Linked DNA regions of Homo sapiens: region 2 is linked to region 1. A link means that fine-mapping ties the variant in region 1 to the expression of a gene that starts in the linked region. Tissue or cell type: whole blood. Region 1 holds a variant in brackets; the other region holds the start of a gene. All regions are shown on one strand. Distances are between the middles of the regions.

What was found. PIP is the estimated chance that this variant, and not a neighbour inherited with it, causes the effect.
Region 2: HERPUD2 starts here. The variant in region 1 is fine-mapped to the expression of HERPUD2 in whole blood (TOPMed, PIP above 0.99).

Annotation. Positions count from the first base shown.
Region 1 is chr7:35,716,594-35,719,350 of GRCh38, forward strand. LINC03013 (long intergenic non-protein coding RNA 3013) reads left to right here. Exons shown (of 2, transcript NR_108083.1): 1 at 1-275; 2 at 2,477-2,757. Among named protein-coding and RNA genes, the nearest start is that of LINC03013, 1.5 kb to the left of the region's middle. The variant A/T (reference allele first, on the strand shown) is at 1,447.
Region 2 is chr7:35,693,873-35,696,629 of GRCh38, forward strand. It overlaps HERPUD2 (HERPUD family member 2), which reads right to left and starts at 1,263. Exons shown (of 9, transcript NM_022373.5): 1 at 929-1,263; 2 at 312-755. The coding sequence starts at 458. It overlaps HERPUD2-AS1 (HERPUD2 antisense RNA 1), which reads left to right and starts at 1,334. Exons shown (of 1, transcript NR_136255.1): 1 at 1,334-2,757. RefSeq lists an enhancer at 402-1,289 and a silencer at 732-1,141.

The DNA.
Region 1 (2,757 bases):
ACATGCCAGCAGAACTCTAAAGGCAGAATGTCCTTCCACCTGTTTTATGCTGTAAGACAAACTTCCAAGTGCGAGGCAGTGTGGAGGGCTGTTGCCTTGAATGGCAGCTGAATGCACCAGCGGGATCCTTGGCAGCAATGCCCAGGCACTGAAGTCGGGCATTCAGGAGAGCTAAATGGAGAAAAGAAACTTGAGCAAACTGCTTCCTGGAACACTGAGAACCTGAATGGGAAATTAAGAAGAACCAGATTCTTTCTATTCTTCCACCAGCCAAGGTCAGATTTCCAAACTTCTATTGATTCTAATCTTTCCCAAACAGTGCTGTGGCAATGTATGAAAGTAATAAAAATAATCCTTTTTCTGTTAAAAAAAAAATTGCTGTTACTTGCTGTTTTGTTATGCTTTTGCTGGAGATTTTCCCACCCATCTTAAAGCAGCAACTTCAGGATGGGGGAATCAAGCAAAACCATGGTGAAGAGATTCATTTAAAGAGGACAAGTGATTTATTCTACATCTCAGGAGACAGTTCCTTAAGGTGAGAGGTGTTGCCTATGCCAACTTGCTTATTGCCTCTTTTGATGTTATCTTAGCAATAAGCTGGGGCTAATCGTCCCCAGTTTGGGAGACTTTGAGGCAGGGCTAACTGCCACAGTAAAAGACCCATTAACAGTAAGGAGGGTAAATGGATAGCAAAAAACCTAGGAGAATCCACAGGCTTTTGTTAATTTTATTCTATCTGCCTGGTGTTTCTGGAACTCTAGTTTCAAAGTTAGAATACCCAGAATCCCAGCAGCTGAGGAAAGTAATAACCAGTGTCTGGGGGCGAGGGTGGGGAGGGAAGCGAGGGTATAAAGAGGATGAGAATTCTTCTAGTTATTTTCAGTTTTTACTGAAACTGAAGCTTTCCTGAAACTTTAAGTTTTTAGGAAACTTAAAGATAATTGTTTGTTTACTTAAAATACAGCCTCAAGGATACTTTTAGTTTAAAAAAATTTCTTGACTACTTGATTTCCTCTTGGGAAGATTATTATTTAACAAAAATATGTATTTATAAACAAAATATTTCAGAACAGGAGTCTGTGGAGAAATAGTCTTAAAAGGACTTTTCAGCAGTGATAAGATAAGAAACACTGCCCTAAAGAAAACTGTTGGCTGGGCGCGGTGGCTCATGCCTGTAATCCCAGCACTCTGTGAGGCCAAGGTGGGCGGATTACCTGAGGTCAGGAGTTCGAGACCAGCTTGGCCAACATGGTGAAACCCCGTCTCTACTAAACACACACACAAAAAAAATTAGCCAGGCATGATGGCGCATGACTGTAATCCCAACTACTTGGAAGGCTGAGGCAGGAGAATCGCTTGAACCCGGGAGGTAGAGGTTGCAGTGAGCCAATATCGCACCATTGCACTCCAGCCTGGGCAACAGGAGCAAAACTCCATCTCAAAAAT[A/T]AATAAATAAATTAATTAATTTAATTTAATTGTTTAAGGGGTGTCATTTTCCAAATTGTTTTTATGAAAAATTTACAAACAGTGGCTAGTGTCCCATTGTACTGTGTATCTAATTCAGTAAAAGTACTGAAGATTCAAAAAGATTGTTAGAGTGGTTGTGGAAAATTCCAGAGCTGCTGTCACCAGCAGAGCCTTCCTTTACTGAGTGTCTCAGTGCCAGTATAACAAATCCTAGACACTGGCTTTATTGGCCAGTGGTGCAAAGAAATAGTAAAAATTCAATAAAAATATTGCTTGAACCAGGAAGCCTCCTCATAGAGTTGTGGACTCTTCAGAGAGGTTTTACCAAAGTAAGGGCAGAATGTGTATACCGTCTTTCAGGGATTCAAGAAATGTAGGCAACAATGTCTATTATTAGCCCTCCTCTCCTTCCATGAGCAAAACCCAAATTACTTGTTTTTAATTGGCACAAAAGCACATTCAATCATTACATTATCAGACATTGTTCATGTACCTATCATATGCCAGGCTGTGTGCTAAGAGCTGGGGATCTGAAGATGAATAAAATGTACCCTGCCACAATCAGGATTGGCAACAACTGACCTAGGTGGCTCACCTGCATTGTCTGGATAACAAGCCAATTGGCACCTGAGGCCCCCAACCTTATCCCCACAGGAGGGGTTCGTCCAAACTGCTCATGAGACCAGTTTCTCCCTTCCACAGACCCCAGTGCCTTCAGGTGCTGAAAGTTGACTTTCCCAGGCAACTCAGAGAGCTGGTGTCTAACCCCACACTGATGTTACTCAATAAGTCTGATTACCCTCCCACCCACTAGGTTGTTCTCACTCTTGCCCTATAAGAAGGAGAGCAGCAAGGGGACAAGGAATGCCCACCGATGGTGTGTCCAATAGATAACTTTGGCCCATCTCTTATCTTTATTTGTTAATTCTTGCTTTGTAACTTTCCCCCAATAGAGCCCATGAGATTTCATGGAAATCATCACAAAATAACAAACCTTTTTGCGTGACAGGTGATGAGCACAAAAGGATCCATCTTATACAGTGCTTGCCAGCTTCCATAATACTACTCACCACGATGTTGAAATCACCTGTTCCAGAACCAGTCCTGTCCTTTGACAAGAAGGATTTAATTATCAGTAGTGGTGGGGACTGGCTGGAGAGAGGAAAAACACTTCAAGGACTCTGCCACCTTTCGTAGATGGAGAGTGCAAAGTTTGTACCATGGAACTCCTTCTCTAACAGTTACTCTGTGGCAGTGCCTATTTCAAACCTCCCTTAACTTCTGATTGTA
Region 2 (2,757 bases), 23 kb before region 1:
TGATCCGCCCGCCTTGGCCTCCCAAAGTGCTGGGATTACAGGTGTGAGCCACCGCGCCCGGTCTTTGCCTGCCAATTCTTAAGTCCCTTGATATTTCTGCTTCCTCTTACTAATTAACTGAACCTCATCAGGAAAATATTAATGATGGTTCGAACACTCAGGAGACACAACCTCAGAACTCAAAATACCTCGCGGTCTACCAAAAGAGACCTATTTGATTCAAGACTGGAGGGGAGAAGCAGGAAAAAGGAGGGTACACGGCACGAAAAGCTGCTGGTCAGAGCAGCTGCCCCCAGCTTTTACACACTTACTGGTTTGCTAGGGTAAACGTTAGATAGATGCGTTTTTAGTTTCCCCACGGTCCAGTTCAAGAAGCAGCTAATAGTCTGGTCACTGTATTTCTGATTCGGTGCTTTAATGATGAGGGTCACAGGAATCTCCATCCCACTTTGGTCCATGGTGCCCCCAAAGTCAGACAGAGTCCAGAGGAGCGGCAGTTAAGCCCAAAAGAGCCGAGATGGTCACCGCCGGCGCGACTGGGATGAGGACAGAAGTGAGTTCTTAGTATTCCGTGTCCAAGTCAGTTACAAGTGCACTGGAGGATACGAAGCCCATTGCCGGTACCAAGGATGGACTGAGGTGGTGGCGACTGCGACGGTGGGGTCTGGGTGCCCGGCCGTGGAGGCAGCTCTCCCCGCCAGGTCCGGGCTCCGCCGGGCTCCGGACTGTGGAGGCCGTCGTGAGGAGAAAGGAAGCTATACGAAGGAAGGGTGGGAGGGATGAGGGCACAACGGCCGGCCCGGGGTCACTGCCCCGCCCCACCGCGACCCCCAAGCTGGAACGCAACAAGGCCCCTACGCCACGGCCCCGCGGTGCGGATCGGGGAAGCAGCTGGGCCGCTCAGGGCGGTCAGCGGGCACTGGGGTACCTGAGAGAAGGCCGCGGGGCCCGCCACCGCCGCCCTCCGCGCCCAGGCAGGGCCGCCAGCCACACCGTCCGGCCAGGCGTTTTCCGTGGCAGCCGCTCCCTTCCTGCTGCGCGGCGACCGGCACGGCCCAGCCCCGGGTCTCGCGAGGAGGCGCGGGTGAAAGGGAGAGAAGCTGACCGAAGGCGCGGCCCGGCTCTCCGCCTGACCCCTCAGTCTGGACAGCGCAGGGTGGCGGCAAGGCAGGGCTGGGCCGGGGGCGGCCCAGGCGACTACAGGTAGCAGGAGGGCGGGGACGAGAGCCGTTGCGCCACCGCTGGCGCGCCGGTTTTGTTGTTATTGCGAGGATTGTCTGGGGCCCCTTTAAGCCGGAACAGGCAGGGCGGAAGTGCGTCACCGGCGGCACGCCCCTGCACATGGACCTCCCCCGTCCCCGCCATCCCTGCCGATCCTGTTGCTGCCGCCTTCCCGCCGTGCTCGGGCTGCCCGGGACTCTAGCCGCCAGGCTTCGCGTCGCCCAGCGGCAGATCGGGCTCCTGGGAGCCTCTCCCCTGGCCGTTTGCTCGGCCTCGGCCCCAGCTGCCCTGGGGCCTAGCCACTAGCTCCCCTGGCGCTAGCCTACCCTGTCTTGACCGCACCCTGAAGATTTGGGAAGTCTTTCTCCATCCCAAGAGTCGTCTCTGCAAAAGTTGGTGTCCTTCCTGGTGCTGAACCACGCTTCTGCTCAAAATGTGTTGAGCGTCGTCTGTCTGCAAAGCACGGTGCCAGGAGCTTTGGTGGAGAAGGCATGGGGTACATGTGTAAAGAGTACAGGCTTTTGGTTAAACCTGAAGTCCTCCTCTACTTTCTGGGGGACCCTGGCCGTCCTTGCTGAGCCTCCGTTGACTTCTCTAATGGGGACGGTAATGCCTACCTGACCACAAGCTGATGAGTAAATGAGCTATGAGTGCAAAGTGTGGTGCAGTTCTGGCGTGTGCCAGCCTCTCAAGTGTCAGTTTCCGTCTCATTCCTCTTAATCTTCACTAAAATGGACAAGTATTCATTGAGCACCTAATGCGTGTTCAGTATGGTGGGAGATGAGGGATGACAGTATTATTTTTCTATTTTATAGGTTAGACATAGAACAAAAGGTTGAGTCTATTGCCCATAGCCGAACTTTTCTTCATTTTCTACTGTGGTTTAGAAGTCGGTATAGTAAGTTAAGGGTTGTTAGATGTGCATTTTCACAGCTCCCAGCTTCCACTTAGGAGTAGATAACATAGGGGACTTTGCGAGCTGGTCTCTTTCCCTCTTAGCTTCAGAAGGGCTTCGAGGTAGCCACCACTGAATTAGTTGAGAGACAAGGCACCCCTACGGAGGAAATCTCAACTGCACAACCCCTACTGTGCCCCAATTCAGCAGGAAGCAGTTAGAGCGGTGGTCAAACCTCCCCAATAGCACTTGGGTTTTCCTGTTGAGAGGGGGTACTGAGAGACAGGACTAGTTGGATTTCCTAGGCTGGCTAAGAATCCCTAAGCCTAGCTGGGAAATTGACCACGTCCACCTTTAAACACGGGGCTTGCAATTTAGCTCACACCCGACCAATCAGGTAGTAAAGAGAGCTCACTAAAATGCTAATTAGGGAAAAACAGGAGGTAAAGAAGTAGCCAATCATCTATCGCCTGAGAGCACAACAGGAGGGACAATGATCAGGATATAAACCCAGGCATTCAAGCCAGCGGTGGCTACCCTCTTTGGGTCCCCTCCCTTTGTATGGAAGCTCTGTTTTCACTCTATTAAATCTTGCAATTGCACACTTTTCTGGTACGTGTGTGTCACAGCTCAAGCTGAGC